2 linked regions of the Homo sapiens genome follow. The protein of the gene in region 2 interacts with the protein of the main gene of each other region in a pairwise test. Each region holds a gene or a part of one and is shown on either strand. Other genes may lie near its edges. The genes, in order: EPB41 and RWDD2B.

Region 1 (9,714 bases), on a different chromosome or scaffold from region 2:
CTCTTTCCTCCTCCCCTACGAGTGAATCAACACTTGCTTTATAAGTTTTTCTTCTCTATCTCCTTTCTCTATTGTTAGTTTCACTTCCTACTCTTAAAAATTCTGAGCTTTCAAAATCATGTTTATCAGGAGAAAAAAGAGACTGAAAGAGCTTAAAATGGGATACCTCTGGCCGGGTGCGGTAGTTCACGCCTGTAATCCCAGCTCTTAGGGAGGCAGAGGCGGGAGGATAGCTTGAGCCCAGGAGTTCGAGACCTGCCTGGGCAATATAGCAAGACCCCATTCTCCACAAAAAGGAAAAAAAAAAGGGATACCTCTGAAAGAGGTTGTAATTTGGAATTGTAACATGAAAACCTAAGGAAATTTTTTGCAGTATTTCAACTGTATATTTGTCGTTGCTGTTATCCAGTCTTACAACAAACTATCAGAATTTTACTTTTGCAATTTTAATAGAGAAGTCTCTGCATCCTAAGAAATGTAAAGAAAAAGAACAATAAAGACTGGGGGAACTTTTAAATTTCATCGTCTCTTGGTGTGTGGAGAATTTTGCAGGGAATAATTCCTGCAAATCCTACACCTTCAGATTGATACCCTCAAAGGACACTAAACCACAGTCCTTTTTTAAGGAAGGATAAAACTGTATTTACTGTATACAGTTCTAGGCATTGGATTTAATATGTGATGTATTTCACTAAGGTGGCCTCCGTGGGTACTATTTTAAGCTACTCTCTCTGTGTGCATATCTTTAGTGACTCAAGGCATTAATATTTTATTCAGGATGTGTAGATAAGATATTTTTGTAATTTAATGGAAAGTCTCATGTTTAATGGGTTTGAATTCTGTTTGTTGGCAATTAAATACCTAAGTATATTAATTTTTTAGGGTTTAGGGTTTTGCCAACAGTAATGTGTTTTGCTTATAAGAGCCCCCCTTTTCTATCTTCTTTTTAATAGCAACATCATGACAACAGAGAAGAGTTTAGTGACTGAGGCCGAAAATTCACAGCACCAACAGAAGGAAGAGGGTGAGGAAGCCATAAACTCAGGCCAACAAGAACCTCAGCAGGAGGAATCTTGTCAAACAGCAGCTGAAGGAGATAATTGGTGTGAACAGAAGCTGAAAGCTTCTAATGGAGACACTCCTACACATGAAGACTTGACCAAGAACAAGGAGCGGACATCAGAAAGCAGAGGACTTTCACGACTATTCTCCTCGTTTCTCAAAAGGCCCAAATCTCAGGTGTCCGAGGAAGAAGGCAAAGAAGTAGAGTCAGATAAAGAAAAAGGTGAAGGAGGTCAGAAAGAGATAGAATTTGGAACCAGTCTTGATGAAGAGATCATTTTAAAGGCCCCAATTGCAGCTCCTGAACCGGAACTCAAAACAGACCCATCTTTGGATCTTCATTCATTAAGCAGTGCAGAAACACAGGTAAGGATGTGTGGATATGGGAGGTGGGCAAAGGAAGGCAGGTTATACACTTTATTTTTCATTTAAGAGTATTTGGGCTGGGCGCGGTGGCTCATGCCTGTAATTCCACCACTTTGGGAGGCCGAGGCAGGCGGATCAACTGAGGTCAGGAGTTCGAGACCAGCCTGGCCAACATGGCCAAACCCTGTCTCTACTAAAAGTACAAAAATTAGCCGGGCCTGATGGCGGGTGCCTGTAATCCCAGCTACTCAGGAGGCTGAGACAGGAGAAGTTGAACTCGGGAGGCGGAGGCTGCAGTGAGCTGAGATCGTGCCACTGCATTCCAGCCTAGGCAACAAGGATGAGATTCCGTCTCAACAACGGGGGGATAAAAAAAGTACTTGGTTTTATTTCTTACTAGCTAGTTGACTTAGGCATTGATAGTGATAAGTAGCATCATAAAGCTTTATAGTTTCTACTCTATTTTTTTTTTGAGACTGAGTCTTGCTCTGTCACCCAGGCTGGAGTGCAGTGGTGTGATCTCGGCCCACTGCAACCTCCCCGTCCTGGGTTCAAGCTATTCTTCTGCCTCAGCCTCCCGAGTAGCTGGGATTACAGGCGCTGGCCACCATGCCCAGCTAATTTTTGTATTTTTAGTAGAGACAGCGTTTTGCTGTGTTGGCCAGGCTGGTCACAAACTCTTGACCTCAGGTAATCTGTCCACCTCAGCCTCCCAAAGTGCTGGGACTACAGACGTGAGCCACCATGCCCGGCTTATAGTTTCTACTCTAAAAAAATTAATGTAGTCATTGGAAACTTACTTTTTAAACAGTTACTTACACTTTATATGTATTAAAGGGTCTTGCTATTTTGCCCAGGCTAATCTCAAACTCCTGGGCTCAAGTGATCCTCCCACCTCAGCCTCCTGAGCAGCTGGCATTACAGGTGTGTACCACCATGCCTGTCCATTTACTGTTTATAAATCAAAGAATAGTAGAGAAAAAAAAAGTATCAAATCAATGTGTTCAGCCCATATATCATTTTATTATAATAATGGAACAAATTGAAGATTTCTCATGAGAGAGGAAAAGAAAGATGAGATGGTTTAGAGTTCATTTTTGTGGAATTATTAGGAACAGGACGGTTATCAGCAGATGTGGTTCTTTTACGTAAATCTTCCTAAAAGCTGTGTGATGAATTCAAGCCCTTTGAAGGTATGTGATAGATTCAAGTCATGTCTACCTTATTTTGATCATCTTCTTTAACTAGAGCATATTGCCACAGAGTGTAAGATACAGATGAGGAAGTCTAGCTCTTTCTATCACCTGTGTAATGTATATTAGTCTGGGGCCTTAATTGTGACATAGTGTTGTTAAACTAAACACGAGTTGTGAGTTTATTTGTCCCAAAAAATGGGAAAACATTAGTACTGTAACTCAGACTATTTTCTGAGAATGTCATTTATTTTCAGCCTCACCATTACAATTAAGAATTATTTTCAGAGTCTTCTTATTTCTGAAGCATGTGAATATTATCTGCATCGTTAAAAGTGTAAGTCCTTCTAGAACTCTGACAGTGTTGGGGGGAAAAAAGTAAAAGTCCTACATGTTTCTATTATAGGTCTGAGATTTGGACTCCATAGTTTTATTAGAGTCTTATTAGAATATTACATGTATTTCTAGAACTATTACTTGTATATTCAAAGTGCTGAGGGTAAAATTTAGGATAAAATTATAATTGCACACTTGCTGTTAGTGAAACAAGGTTGAAAACAAGATTTACTATGTTCTGTAATAGTTAAGATGCAAGCTATAGAATCCGACTAGAGGGTTCAAATCGAAGAAAAGTGACACTTTTCACTTTATCAGTTTCCTCCTCTGTACAATGGGGATAATAATATCCACCTCATTTGGGATTGAAAGGATTAAAAGAGTGAAACCGGTAAAAGCTCTTAAAACATTGCCTGGCATTTAATAAATACTCAATGAATGTTAGCTAGTAAATAAACACAAACAGTAAAGGCAAAGAAACCATTCATATCTTAATAACATTTTATTTTAGGAATACCAAAAGAATTAAATTACATTATCGGCCGGGCGCAGTGGCTCACACCTGTAATCCTAGCACTCTAGGAGGCTGAGGCAGGCGAATCACAAGGTCAGGAGTTTGAGACCATCCTGGCCAACATGGTGAAACCCTGTCTCTACAAAAAATACAAAAAATTAGCTGGGCGTGGTGGCGGGCACCTGTAGTCCCAGCTACTCGGAAGGCGAGGCAGGAAAATTTGCTGAGAGCCGAGATCACGCCACTGCACTCCAGCCTGGGTGACAGTGCGAGATTCCATCTCAAAAAAAAAAAAAAAAAATTACATTATCTTTCAGGAAGCCTGGTACTTTCAAGAGTTTTTCAAATTTCCTTCCTTCCTTCCTTCCTTCCTTCCTTCCTTCCTTCCCTCCCTCCCTCCCTCCCTCCCTTCCTCTCTTCCTCTGCCTCCCTCCTTTCCCCTCCCTCCCTCCTTCCCCCTCTTTATTTATTTTCTTTTTTTCTTTCTTTCTTGACAGGGTCTCTCTCTGTCACCCAGACTAGAATACAGTGGTGTGATCATGGCTCACTACAGCCTCAACCTCCCGGGCTCAAGCTATCCTCCCATCTCAGTCTCCTGAGTAGTTGGGACTACAGGTGCATGCCACATGCCCAGCTAATTTTTAAATTTTTTGGTAGAGACGGTCTTGCTTTGTTGCCTAGGCTGGTCTTGAACTCCTGAACTCGAGCAATCCTTCTGCCTCAGCCTTCCAGAATGCTGGGATTACAGGCATGACCACTGTGCCTGGCCTCAAGGGGTTTTTAACTGCTTTTTTCTCCTTCAGCTTTATATAGGGGAAAATCCATATCTTGTTTTAGTTAACATTTGAATCAGAACTTGTCTGCATTGTCTAAAGTTCATAGATTCGTACTCAAGTTGACACAGATGATGGACAGTTAATTTTAGATTTAACTAAAATCTCATTCATTAAGATTTAATTCCGAATTGAAATAAATTGTCCGTAGGTTATTTGTCTTCATGTGGAGAAAAAGAAACGATATTGTTAGTAAAATTTCAAGGAGATATTATTTAAAAGAACAAACTATTTTAGGCCTTTTGGAAACTAATATTTATAGTCAAAACCTTGTGGATCAGAGTCGTCTGGATAAAGGTTTATTTGCCTAACCATGTTTCTGTATATGTAATAGGATTTTATTTAAATGGTTCTTTTTTATCCAGAATTTTTTAAAAAGCGTGTTTGCTTTATATTATAAATATATAAATATATATTTATATTACATTTAAGTGTATAATATATATAAATATAGGATTGTACCAGTCTTCATCCAGAGTAGCTTGGATTTTTTGGAAGCCTATGTAAATTTTTAATGTTTGTTTATTCATTCAACAAATATTTATTGAAAACCTACCATGTGTGCCAGGCCCTAGGCTGGATATACCTTGGTAAATAAAAACTGCAATATGGTGAAGAGGTTTAAAATCATGGATTTTGGGGCTGAGTGTGGTGGCTCATGCCTGTAAATCCAGCACTCTGGGAGACTGAGGCAGGAGGATCACTAGAGCCCCGGAGTTCGAGACCAACCTGGGCAACATGGAGAAACACCATCTCTACAAAAAAGTAAAAAACTAGCTAGGCATGGTGGCTCTCCTGTAGTCCCAGCTACTTGGGATGTTGAGGTGGGAGGATCACTTGAGTCTGAGAGGTCGAGGCTGCATTGAGCCATGATTATGTCACTGCACTCCAGCCTGGGTGATAGAGTGAGACTCTTGTCTCAAAAAAAAAAAAAAAAAGCAAAAAAAACAAATCGTGGATTCTGAAGCCAGACTGGTATGTGACTTATTAATTGTATGATCCTAGGCAAGTTACTTAATTTCTCTGGCCTGTTTTACAACCCTGCAGGCCAGGTACTATTATCCTCCCTCTATCAAGTGGGGATATAATAATACTACGTGCCTCGCAGGGTAGTTATGAGGATTGAGTTAGTTCACATAAGTAATTTTCTTAGAATAGTGACTGGCCCATTGTAATTGTTGTATAAATGTTTGGTATTATTATTATTATAAAACAGACATGATTTCTACCCTTGTGGACTTTAATAGAGAAGACAAAAAAGTAGCAAATAAAAATAATTATTTATTGTAATAAGTTATAAAGCCACCAGAGTACTGATATGAAAGACAGTAGAGCGGGCATAGATAGATAGGATAGCCAGTGAAGAGACTTCCTGAGGTTGCAGTGAGAGGGTCATGAAAGATCGGAAGGAGTCTTTTAGATTACTTCCAGTATTTAATGCAGGAGTCAAATAATTAATTTCTTTTTCCTAATTGTCAACCATGCATTCTTTTTTTCTTTTAATTGTTTTCCAGCTGTTACACAAGGAAGTAACATATTCTTTTAAAAGAAAATAATTAGTCGGGTTTAGATAAAAATATGTCGGTAGTTTTGTTGTGTTGAAAGTAAAAGTAAAAATGTATGCCGGCCAGGCACGGTTGCTCACGCCTGTAATCCCAACACTTTGGGAGGCCGAGGCGGGCAGATCATGAGGTCAGGAGATCAAAACCATCCTGGCTAACGTGGTGAAACCCCATCTCTACTAAAAGTACAAAAAAATTAGCTGGGCGTGGTGGCGGGCGCCTGTAGTCCCAGCTATTCAGGAGGCCCAGGCAGGAGAATCGCTTGAACCCTGGAGGCGGAGCTTGGAGTAAGCCGAGATCGCGCCACTGCACTCCAGCCTGGGCTACAGAGTGAGACTCCGTCTCAAAAAAAAATGTATACCAAAAATGTTATCCTACTTATCGGTATTATTTGGGGATAATTTAAGATTGCACCAGGAAACTCTTCCTTCATTGACTCTTCTTTGCATTTAACATGATTAATATTGGGTAGAAAGGTGTTAGCTGGTAGTTAAAATTTTTAGCCTACTACATGTTTGCTTAATGATGTGAAATTGGTCCCAAGCATTTCTCTTAGAATTAAAATTAATTTAAAATTTAGAATATGTAACAAGTCACATCTTATTTTGCAGTTTGTAAGGCTACATTGCTAAAATTGAGGAGCATGGGCAGAGACAATAACGTTTTTGTTAAACTTTAATAATACCGTGTAATGGCTTGGTCAGGAAGAATATATAATGCTGAGAGCAATGGATTGGTATCCTCCGGTTTACCTGAGACCTTCATTTATTGATTTGATGGGATTCTACCTGAGAAGTTTTAATAACAAAGTCTTTAGGGCATTTGGGGGATCATACTATTTTTTATAGAAAAATATTTAATATTAATGTCACCTATATTTGTTTTAGTTCATGCTTTTATTGGTAAGATTATTATAGGTAAAAGCATATACAGCATGTTTTGTGAAATGTGTTTATTACTGACTTGGCGATGTCATGGATATGTAGCCTGCTCAGGAAGAACTCAGAGAAGATCCAGATTTTGAAATTAAGGAAGGAGAAGGACTTGAAGAGTGCTCCAAAATAGAAGTAAAAGAAGAAAGCCCTCAATCAAAAGCAGAAACAGAATTAAAAGCTTCCCAAAAACCAATCAGAAAACACAGGAACATGCACTGCAAGGTTTCTTTGTTGGATGACACAGTTTATGAATGTGTTGTGGAGGTGAGTATGTTTTCATTTCCAACAATCAGAACTCTTACAGGTGGTTTCATCTAGAGTTGCGTAAGTGGTGATTTTGCCCACGATAAGACTCACTGTAGTGATTATTTCTTTTTTCTTTTTTTTTTTTTTTTTGAGACAGAGTTTTGCTCTGTCACCCAGGCTGGAGTGCAGTGGCATGATCTTGGCTCACTGTAGCCCCCAACTCCCATGTTCAAGTGATTCTCCTGTCTCAGCCTCCCGAGTAGCTGGGATTACAGCCATGTGCCACCATGCCAGGCTAATTTTTTGTATTTTTAGTAGAGACAGATTTCACCATATTGGTCAGGCTGGTCTTGAAGTCCGGGCCTCAAGTGATCTGCCCACCTCGGCCTCCCAAATTGCTGGGATTACAGGCATGAGCCACTGCGCCCGGCCTTTAATGATTATTTCTGTAGATGGAAGTATTAATGGTGATTTTCTGGAGGTGGGATTATGGGAAGATGATGAGTAAGTCTTTAAGTCCAGTAAATGCCATTTCTTAAAATTTTCTGTTTTCTGAAAGAATAAGTGATTGAATCAGGATTGAAGAAAAATATCAGAGTTATTCAGTTACTCTTTTTGCTCCTTCAGGACAAGTTGACAATTTTTTTTTTGTTTGTTTGTTTTTTGAGACAGAGTCTCTCTCTGTCGTCCAGGCTGGAGTGCAGTGGTACAATCTCGGCTCACTGCAAGCTCTGCCTCCTGGGTTCACGCCATTCTCCTGCCTCAGCCTCCAGAGTAGCTGGGACTACAGGCACCCGCCACCACGCCTGGCTAGTTTTTTGTGTTTTAAGTAGAGACGGGGTTTCACCGTGTTAGCCAGGCTGGTCTCGATCTCCTGACCTCGTGATCTGCCCGCCTCGGCCTCCCAAAGTGCTGGGTTTACAGGCTTGAGCCACCGCGCCCGGCCAGAGCAAGTTGAAATTTTAAAAAAATCTACTAACTATATATTTTTCAAACTGGAACAGTAGTTGTTTATTATGATATGCTTGATATATAAGCAATTGCAATTGTTACTAGTAACAGCTTTTATTGACAAAGTGTGTAATTCACATATATGTGGAACAAACTATTTTATTTATTTATTTATTTATTTATTTATTTATTTATTTATTTGAGACAGGGTCTTGCTCTGTTGCCCAGGTTGAAGTGCAGTGGCGCAGTGACAGCTCACTGCAGCCTCAACCTCCTGGGCTCAGGTGATCCTCCCACCTCAGCCTCCTGAGTAGCTGGGACTACAGGCACATACCATCACACCTGGCTAATTTTTTATATTTTTTGTAGAGACAGGTTCTCACCATGTTGCCCAGGTTACTCTTGAGCTCCCCGGCTCAAGCGATCTGCCTGCCTCAGCCTCCCAAAGTACTAAGATTATAGGCATGAGTCACCGCACCCAGCCTTATTTCTTAATCACATTATTTATTTGCAAATGTAAATATGTTCAATCACAAATCATCTAAAATATTATGCTATATTTACTAATAGGTATTCTCTAAGTTTAAAAAGGAAATCAAGAAAGATGTAATTGTACTTTGAAACAGGTACTATACACCTAACTAGAGCCTTAGGGTCTGCTTTTTCTGCTTCTTGCACTAACTAATTTAGAGATGGGGAAAGCTATTTTACACCTATTCTTCCCATTCAGACCAAGATCCAGATATGGATCTCTTATATATGAAGCCCTTGGGGACAGATGTGTCATAGAATTCAGAATATTTTGAGGCCGGGCACGGTGGCTCATGCCTGTAATCCCAGCACTTTGGGAGGCCGAGGCAGGTGGATCACGAGGTCAAGAAATCGAGACCATACTGACCAACATGGTGAAACCCCGTCTCTACTAAAAATACAAAAATTAGCTGGGTGTGGTGGCACGCACCTGTAGTCCCAGCTGCTTGGGAGGCTGAGGCAGGAGAATCGCTTGAACCCAGGAGGTAGAGGTTGCAGTGAGCTGAGATCACACCACTGCACTCCAGCCTGGCGACAGAGTGAGACTCCGTCTCAAAACAAAACAAAATAAAAACTAGAATTCAGAATATTTTGGAGTTTAGCAAGGGAATAAGTACATATTCTGCATATTTTATAATAAACCCAGCAGTGTCTGTAGCAGCACCCACATGATCAGACATAGTATTTCTATGGTAAAAGATATGAAGATTCATTCTGAGGTGGATAAATTAAGATTATAAATAGTCTCTTTACAGTTCAAGTCAAAATTTGCCATTTGGATTTTAGAATTATGAATAAGGGATTAGGGAAAATACATGAAGCATTTTCAAATCATCTTCTGTCATTTAGAATGAAAACATGGGAGAAAAAAAGAAAATTATTTGATATGGATGAGTTAAGACTGACAATGAATGAACATTTATGTGAATTATTAATAGTCATTAAAAATAACTCATCTCATTGAGAGGAGGACATGTCATATATGTTTGCCCAAAAAATGATTCTAATTTTTTGAAGTATTTTCATATATATTTCTCAGAAGACATTCACATATTTGATTATTGTTAAACAATTCCAATAAAGAGGTAGGATGAGTGTAAATATTCTTATCATTTCACAGCTGAGCAAACTAATGTTCAGAAAAGTTAATTGAATCTACTCAGCTTGTTTAGCTAGTAAATGGAG
Region 2 (9,714 bases):
CCTCTAAAAGCAAAACTGAATTACCATTTTTTCGTCAGATACATCCAGGTTCATATTGATAGTAAAGTAGACTTTTGAAGATCGCCCCTCCATTGTCTTCTTTTCAATACAATCTTTCAGTTCTGCTACAGCCAGCTGGTCATTCACTATGAGCTCATTCTCACCAGGGAACATACTGGCTAGCAGGTCTAACTCAGCAAGCTGGGCCTCCGCCTGCTCCATCTCAATCATTTTTGGACATGTGTAAGTTTCTAAGGAGGTAAAGATAAGAGAGACAATTTACATATGCAATCTTGGAAGAAATGAATACATCAACATGTGTACTTACTAAAATTGTACTTGGTTTCTTCATAAATTGTACAATTTAATTAGTCTCTTTCCCTATTACTCTACTTTCAGATATAATATGCTAAGTCCTATGCTAAGACCAGCCTGAGCAACATACTGAGACCATCTATAAAAAAACAAACACAAAAAAACTCTTAATAGTAAGTAGACACCACATTCTTCTGTGTCTAGATAGTTGAGTGGACAACTTGAGCTACCATAATGGGCAATTTCATCAAAGTAAACCAATTATGTAGTCAAAAAGCTGTATCAATAATGTAGCCAGAAGAGAGGATATGACTGGTTACACTGGAAACCTAGAATGAACAAAGTCAGTCAGAGAGTTTGGTTACGTGGATGGTCAATTTCTTCTTTTTAAGTAAATATTAATGTTTATTAGGTTTTTTTGAGACAGGGTCTAGCTCTGTCACCACAGCTGGAGTGCAGTGGCATGATCCCCGCTCACTGCAACCTCAACCTCCCACGCCCAAGCAATCCTCCCACCTCAGACTTCTGAGTAGCTAGGACCACAGGTATGCACTGCCACGCCCGGCTTCATTTTTTATTTGTAGAAACAAGGTCTTGCTATGTTGTCCAGACTGGTCTTGACCTCCTGGGCTCAAGCAATCCTCCTGCCTTGGCCTCCCAAAGTGCTAGCATTACAGGTATGAGCCACTGTGCATGGCATTTATTAGTTTTTTTTTTTTTTTTTTTGAAACGGAGTCTCGCTCTGTCACCCAGGCTGTAGTGCAGTGGCGCAATCTTGGTTCACTGCAAGCTCCACCTCGGCGCGTTCACGCCATTCTCCTGCCTCAGCCTCCCAAATAGCTGGGACTACAGGCGCCCAACACCACACCCGGTTAATTTTTTGTATTTTTAGTAGAGATGGGGTTTCACCGTGTTAGCCAGGATGGTCTTGATCTCCTGACCTCATGATCCGCCCGCCTCGGCCTCCCAAAGTGCTGGGATTACAGGTGTGAGCCACTGCGCCCGGCCTATTTATTAGTTTTTAAGAAGCAGAGGAACATAAAGAGAAAATAAGTGTTAATTGTCCTGTAGCTTAAGTCACCCCTGTTAACATTAAAACATCTTAAGCATTATACATATATATATGTGAAAAATGCTGGTATAATGTATAAATATGTACAATGTGAGATATATACAGTATACATATTTAAATCCAAAGGGGATAATATATACTTTTTCCTCCTATTTCCTATCTCCCTCCCCACCAAATATATTTTGTAGATCTATTCACTGTCAACATATAGTGATCTACCTCATTCTTTGTAACTGTCGGCTGTTATACTGAATCATGTAGATATGCCATAACTTATTTAATTCTTTACCTATTGATGGACACTTGGGTTGTTTCCACATTTTTACTAATATGAACAATCCTATAATGCAAGGTCTTTTTATATATATAGTATGGTAAACTGAATACTGTGTATTCAATAATAAACTTACAGAGGTGGATTGTTGTATCAACATGTACATTTTAAATTTTGATAGATATTGCCAAGTTACTTTCCAGAAAGTTGCCATACAGAACAGAAATTTACAATTGTACTCAGTCCCCTGCTTCTTTTCTTTAAAAGAAAATTCTTAATACATAGTTCCTTTTGGCCTAGCACGGTGGCTCACACCTGTAATCCCACCACTTGGGGAGGCCAAGGAGGGTGGATAGCTTGAGTCCAGGAGTTTTAGATCAGCCTGGGTAACATAACGAAACCCTGTCTCTACTAAAAAATACAACAAAATTACCCGGGTGTGTTGGTGCGTGCCTGAAGTCCCAGCTACTTGGGAGGCTGAGACAGAATCACTGGAACCTGGGAGTCAGAGGTTGCAGTGAGTTGAGATCGTGCCATTGCACTCCAGCCTGGGCAAAAAGAGTGAAACTCCGTCTCAAAAAATAAAAATAAAAAAAAAAAACCAAAAAAAACCCTCTCCCTCTCCCTCTCCCGTCTCCCCATGGTCTCCCTCTCCCTCTCTTTCCACGGTCTCCCTCTGATTCCGAGCCGAAGCTGGACGGTACTGCTGCCATCTCGGCTCACTGCAACCTCCCTGCCTGATTCTCCTGCCTCAGCCTGCCGAGTGCCTGCGATTGCAGGCGCGCGCCGCCACCCCTGACTGGTTTTCGTATTTTTTTGGTGGAGACGGGGTTTCGCTGTGTTGGCCGGGCTGGTCTCCAGCTCCTAACCGCGAGTGATCCGCCAGCCTCGGCCTCCCGAGATGCGGGGATTGCAGACGGAGTCTGGTTCACTCAGTGCTCAATGGTGCCCAGGCTGGAGTGCAGTGGCGTGATCTCGGCTCGCTACAACCTCCACCTCCCAGCAGCCTGCCTTGGCCTCCCAAAGTGCCGAGATTGCAGCCTCTGCCCGGCCGCCACCCCGTCTGGGAAGTGAGGAGCGTCTCTGCCCGGCCACCCATCGTCTGGGATGTGAGGAGCCCCTCTGCCTGGCTGCCTAGTCTGGAAAGTGAGGAGCGTCTCTGCCCAGCCGCCCTGCCATCTAGGAAGTGAGGAGCGCCTCTTCCCAGCCGCCATCCCATGTGGGAAGTGAGGAGCGTCTCTGCCCGGCCGCCCATCGTCTGAGATGTGGGGAGCACCTCTGCCCTGCCGCCCCGTCCGGGATGCGAGGAGCGTCTCTGCCCGGCCACCCGGTCTGAGAAGTGAGGAGACCCTCTGCCTGGCAACCACCCCGTCTGAGAAGTGAGGAGCCCCTCCGCCCGGCAGCCGCTGGGTCTGAGAAGTGAGGAGCCCCTCCGCCCAGCAGCCACCCCGTCTGGGAAGTGAGGAGCGTCTCTACCCGGCAGCCACCTCGTCCGGAAGGGAGGTGGGGGGGGGTCAGCCCCCCGCCCGGCCAGCCGCCCCTTCCGGGAGGGAGGTGGGGGGGGTCAGCCCCCCACCCGGCCAGCCGCCCCGTCCGGGAGGGAGGTGGGGGGGTCAGCCCCCCGCCCGGCCAGCCGCCCCGTCCGGGAGGTGAGGGGCGCCTCTGCCCGGCCGCCCCTACTGGGAAGTGAGGAGCCCCTCTGCCCGGCCAGCCGCCCCGTCCGGGAGGGAGGTGGGGGGGTCAGCCCCCCGCCCGGCCAGCCGCCCCGTCTGGGAGGTGAGGGGCGCCTCTGCCCGGCCGCCCCTACTGGGAAGTGAGGAGCCCCTCTGCCCGGCCAGCCGCCCCGTCCGGGAGGGAGGTTGGGGGGTCAGCCCCCCGCCTGGCCAGCCGCCCCATCCGGGAGGGAGGTGGGGGGGTCAGCCCCCGACCCGGCCAGCCGCGCCGTCCGGGAGGGAGGTGGGGGGGTCAGCCCCCCGCCCGGCCAGCCGCCCTGTCCGGGAGGTGAGGGGCGCCTCTGCCCGGCCGCCCCTACTGGGAAGTGAGGAGCCCCTCTGCCCGGCCAGCCGCCCCGTCCGGGAGGGAGGTTGGGGGGTCAGCCCCCCGCCCGGCCAGCCGCCCCGTCCGGGAGGGAGGTGGGGGTGGTCAGCCCCCCCCCGGGAGGTGAGGGGCGCCTCTGCCCGGCCGCCCCTACTGGGAAGTGAGGAGCCCCTCTGCCCGGCCACCACCCGGTCTGGGTGGTGTACCCAACAGCTCACTGAGAACGGGCCATGATGACAATGGCGGTTTTGTGGAATAGAAAGGGGGGAAAGGTGGGGAAAAGATTGAGAAATCGGATGGTTGCTGTGTCTGTGTAGAAAGAGGTAGACATGGGAGACTTTTCATTTTGTTCTGTACTAAGAAAAATTCTTCTGCCTTGGGATCCTGTAGATCTGTGACCTTACCCCCAACCCTGTGCTCTCTGAAACATGTGCTGTATCCACTCAGGGTTGAATGGATTAAGGGCGGTGCAAGATGTGCTTTGTTAAACAGATGCTTGAAGGCAGCATGCTCCTTAAGAGTCATCACCACTCCCTAATCTCAAGTACCCAGGGACACAAACACTGCGGAAGGCCGCAGGGTCCTCTGCCTAGGAAAACCAGAGACCTTTGTTCACTTGTTTATCTGCTGACCTTCCCTCCACTATTGTCCTGTGACCATGCCCAATCCCCCTCTGCGAGAAACACCCAAGAATGATCAATTAAAAAAAAAAAAGTCTTCTATTTTCTATTTGGAATACATTTTCAATTTCTGCATTTAAATATTTGATCCATCTGGGATATACTTCACTTTAAAAGGTGACGGAAGTTTCCAGCTTATTTTTTTTTTCCAGTTAACTAGCCATTTTTACCAGTACATCTTATAATAAATTTGAAATGTTTCTTTCAACATATGTTAAGTGCCTATATGTATTTGAGTCTTTTTCTGGATTCTCCATTTTGTTATATTGATCTGTCTATAATATCATGTCCTAATACTCTTTTTTTTTTTTTTTTTGAGACAGAGTCTCACTCTGTCACCCAGGCTGGAGTGCAGTGGTGCGATTATAGCTCGTTGCAGCCTCGAACTCCTAGGCTCAAGCAATCCTCCTGTCTCAGCCTCCCAAGTATCTGGGACTACAGTCATGCTACCACCATACCCAGCTAACTAATACTCAACTCTTGAAATCACTATGATGGGTTAGTAAATTGCTCCTACTCTGTCTCTTCATAGCCATCACTCTTCTTTTCTAGAATTCTTTTTTGGTATTTCCTGGCTTTTCTCACATATAAACATTAGAATAATTTTGTTAAGTTTTGAAAACAAGAAAAAATGGTAATTGCATTGAAATTAAAGATTAGGCCTGGCGCGGTAGCTCACGCCTGTAATCCCAACACTTTGGGAGGCAGAGGCGGGCGGATCATGAGGTCAGGAGATCCAGACCATCCTGGCTAACACAGTGAAACCCCACCTCTACTAAAAACACAAAAAATTAGCCGGGCGTGGTGGCCGGCGCCTGTAGTCCCAGCTACTCGGGAGGCTGAGGCAGGAGAATGGCGTGAACTCGGGAGGCGGAGCTTGCAGTGAGCCGAGATCGCGCCACTGCACTCCAGCCTGGGCGACAGAGTGAGACTCCGTCTCAAAAAAAAAAAAAAAAAAGAAATTAAAGATTAATACAGAAAAAGACGATATGTTTATAACGTAGAATTTTCCCTTCAGTAGTTTTTTTAATAGCTTTAATGAGGTATAATTTATATGCCATACCATACTACTGCCAAGCAAGATCTTTAAAATGTTAGCATCCCTTAAGGTTTGGTTGAGGACATCTTTATCTTCTCTATTGTCTCATGGTACCAAGTATTACTGAATATTAAATGTTCACAATTCTCAAATTCTTAGGATGTTCCAAATTCTCGAGCCCCATATTTGTAAATTTAACTATATCTGTATATTTCTATTGGATGTTATATTAGTTCATTTTCTGTTACGATAACAGACTACCTGAGACTGGGTAGTTTACGATGAAGAGAAATTTATTTGGCTTATTGTTCTGGAAGCAGGGAAATCCAAGAGAATGGTGCCTGCATTTTGCAAGGGCATTCTTACTGAGTCATCCCATGGCGGAAGGCAGAGGGCAAGAGAGAATGAGAGCAAGTGCAAGAGAGATGAAGGGGCCAAATGCATGCTTTTATCAGGAACCCACTCCCACAATAACTAACCCACTCCTGCAGTAACACCATTAATCCATTTGTGAGGGCCCTGTTCTTTGGGAACTTTTTCAACCCTGCCTTCTTTCTCTTCTTCTGAAATGCTGATGACAGGAATGTTACATTTTTTGTTATATCCCTGCATATCACTTAATCACCTCTGAAAGGTCCCACCACTCAACTCTATTGCTTTGGGATAAAGCTTCTAACACATGAACTTTGGGGCACACATTAAACCACAGCAGAGACCATCTCAGTCTTAACAGTCCTAAAATAGGTCTAAATGGCCTGGCGCAGTGGCTCACGCCTGTAATCCCAGCACTTTGGGAGGCCAAGGCAGGCAGATCATGAGGTCAGGAGATCAAGACCATCCTGGCTAACATGGTGAAACCCCATCTCTACTAAAAATACAAAAAATTAGCCGGGCGTGGTGGCGGGCACCTGTAGTCCCAGCTACTCAGGAGGCTGAGGCAGGAGAATGGCGTGAACCCAGGAGGCAGAGCTTTCAGTGAGCCGAGATACAGCCACTGCACTCCAGCCTGGGCGGCAGAGCGAGACTCCTTCTAAAAATAAAAAAATAAAAATAAATAAAGTAAAATAAAATAGGTCTAAATTATATTTCTTTAATAATAATTCTTTTATTATTTCTTTTCTGTTTAGAGAACCTATTTTAACCATTCTTTTAGGATAGGTCTGCTGGTGACAAATCTCCTAGATTTCCTTCATCTTAGAATGTCTTGATTTCCCCTTCATTTCTGCAGAATATTTTCACTGGATGCAGTATTCTGGCTTAACAGGTTTTTACTTTCAACAATTGAAAAATGCTGTGCCTCTTCACCTAGCCTCTCTGGTGACTGATGAGAAATCACTCTCATTTGAATTGTTTTCCTTTACAGATAAGGTTCATTTTTGTCACTAATTTTAAGAATTTTTCATTGTCTTTGGTTTTCAGAAGTTTGATTATGATGCGTTTTTTTTTTTTTTTTTTTTTTTGAGATGGGAGTCTCACTTTGTCACCCAGGCTGGAGTACAATGGTGCAATCTTGGCTTATTGCAACCTCCACCTCCCAGGTTCAAGCAATTCTCCTGCCTCAGCCTCCTGCGTAGCTGGGATTACAGGCGCACACCACTACGCCCAGCTAATTTTTGTATTTTTAGTAGAGATGGGGTTTCACCATGTTGGGCAGGCTGGTCTCGAAATCCTGACCTTGTGATCCACCCGCGTTGGCCTCCCAAAGTGCTGTGATTACAGGTGTGAGCCGCCACACCTAGTCTTTTTTTTTTTTTTTTTTGAGATGGAGTTTTGCTCTTGTTGCCCAGGCTGGAGTGCAATGGCACAATCTTGGCTCACCACAACCTCCGCCTCCTGGGTTCAAGTGATTCTCTTGCCTCAGCCTCCCGAATAGCTGGGATTACAGGTGTTCGCCACCACGCCCAGCTAATTTTTTGTATTTTTAGTAGAGAAAGGGTTTTATCATGTTGGCCAGGCTGGTCTCAAACTCCTGACCTCAGGTGATCTACCTACCCTGGCCTTCCAAAGTGCTGGGATTACAGGCGTGAGCCACCATGCCCAGCCCCATATGGTTTAGGTATTTATCCTAGACAAAAGCAATCCTAATTAGGCGAGAGACTATATGGGCACAATTCTTATTTGTGACTTCTCAGAGTCTTAAACTGTGAATTTCCAAGAGGGGTGTTCAGTATTCTGTCTGACTCCAGAACATGTTTTTCCAGGCCAAATGACATTAGCCCTCCTCTCCACAGAACAGAGCAGGATTCCTTATTTTGCCATGTAGTTACCTGAATTTAAGTAGTTTAAATATAAGCATTTAAAGTATCATAAAAGATGGTGGGTAGCCTTGATAATATTTATACATATATTAACATATATTTATTAATATGTCTATTCATGTTTAATTTGAAGTTTTCCTCTTCTAATAACTGTTGGAACTGCAAATATTCCTCCCTCCTTTAATCGCAATGTTTTCTTTTGTTTTTTTTCCGATTTTTTATTTATTTATTTTTTTGAGACGGAGTTTCGCTCTTGTTGCCCAGGCTGGAGTGAAATGGTGCAATCTCGGCTCACTGCAATCTCCACCTCCCAGGTTCAAGCGATTCTCCTGCCTCAGCCTCCCAAGTAGCTAGGATTACAGGCATGCGCCACCACACCCAGCTAATTTTTTGTATTTAGTAGAGATGGAGTTACACCATGTCAGTTGGGCTAGTCTCAAACTCCCGACCTCAGGTGATTCACCCGCCTTGGCCTCCCAGAGTGCTGGGATTACAGGCATGAGCCACTGCTCCCGGCCTTTTTTTTTTTAAACAAAATCCTCATACATACTTAAAATCCCTGGACTTATTGGAATTCCATATACATATTTGCTGGTCTGTTTTGGAGTTGAGAAACATAAAAAACAACTACTTGGGTGGTTATTAGAGGAAATGGTTTACTTTGTTTTTTTGTTGGCGTGGCTCTGTTACCAGTGTTTTTGGATTCTATTACCAGATTGCCAAGGTGCGACTCCTGGCTCTGCCACTTACCAACTGCAGGACCTTAGGCAAGTGGCTTAATTTATCTGTGCTTTAGTCTCCCCAACTCCATAACTGGGATGAGAGGGTTGCTGTGATGATTAGATGAGAATTTGTGGAAAGTGCCTGGCAACAGTAAATTTTATATGCGTGCTTGCTACTATTATTATTAATTAAAAAAACCTTTTTTTTTGAGACAGGGTCTAGCTCTGTCACCCAGGCCAGAGTGCAGAGTCGGCTCACTACAACCTCTGCTTTCTGGGTTTTTTAGTAGAGACGGGGTTTCACCACGTTGGCCAGGCTGGTCTCGAACTCCTGCCGTCATGATCCACCCGCCCTGGGCTCCCAAAGTGCTGGGATTACAGGCATGAGCCACCGTGTCCGGCTGCTTATTACTATTATTATTATTGGTCATCATTTCAACAAATGTTTCTCAAGCACTTACGTTCAAGCACTGGCACTAAGATAACAATGAATGAAAGTAATAAAACAACTCTACTGGTGGGAGGATACCATGACATCAAAAACAAATTTATACGCCCAGCCCAGGTGCGGTGGTGGCTCACGCCTGTAATCCCAGCACTTTGGGAGGATGAGGTGGGCGGATCACCTAAGGTCAGGAGTTTGAGACCAGCCTGGCCAACATGATGAAACCCCATCTCTACTAAAAATACAAAAATTAGCCAGGTGTGGTCGCCCACGCCTGTAGTCCCAGCTACTAGGGAGGCTGAGGCAGGAGAATCGCTTGAACTGGGGAGGCGGAGGTTGCAGTGAGCTAAGATCATACCTCTGCACTCCAGCCAGAGCAACAGAGCAAGACTGTCTCAAAAAAAAACAAAAAAGAATTTTTGTACCCAGTGAATAACTGCTATGAAGAAACCTGAAAAAGAAAACAAGGATAAGGGAAACAATGAGGCAGCAGGGGTGAGACTGCACACAGCATTGTCAGGAAAGGCCTTTCTCCTAAGGTGACTGTAGGGAAGAGACTTTAAGGAACTGAAAAAGGAGGCCATGTGTTTTTCTTGGCCAAGAGTGTTCAAGGGAAAGCGAACAGCATATTCAAAGGCCTTGAGGAAGGAGGGTGCTAGAACAGCTGGCCAGAGCACAGTGAGCTGAGGACACGGGGAATAGAAGAGTTTAGTAAGGAAATGTGGGGCAGTTTATGTTGGGACTAGTAAAGCATGGCCAGAATTTTGAATTTTATCCCGACTGACATGTAAGAGCTACAAGAGAGGTTTGACTTATGAAGATCCCCACACTTGCTGCTATGGAGAAAAGTGAAAGGAAAAGTGGGGTGACCA

The links.
Region 1: the proteins of RWDD2B (region 2) and EPB41 interact in binary tests that used the Homo sapiens proteins (3 or more experiments, as listed by UniProt).

Annotation. Positions count from the first base shown.
Region 1 is NC_000001.11:28,986,478-28,996,191, forward strand, and holds part of EPB41 (protein 4.1), read left to right. Parts: intron 1-953; 5' UTR 954-960; coding exon 961-1,428; intron 1,429-2,878; exon of another isoform or gene 2,879-2,958; intron 2,959-6,852; coding exon 6,853-7,065; intron 7,066-9,714. UniProt on the Homo sapiens protein: Protein 4.1 is a major structural element of the erythrocyte membrane skeleton. It plays a key role in regulating membrane physical properties of mechanical stability and deformability by stabilizing spectrin-actin interaction. Recruits DLG1 to membranes.
Region 2 is NC_000021.9:29,008,371-29,018,084, forward strand, and holds part of RWDD2B (RWD domain-containing protein 2B), read right to left. Parts: exon of another isoform or gene 9,216-9,714; intron 1,323-9,215; exon of another isoform or gene 1,225-1,322; intron 252-1,224; coding exon 25-251; intron 1-24.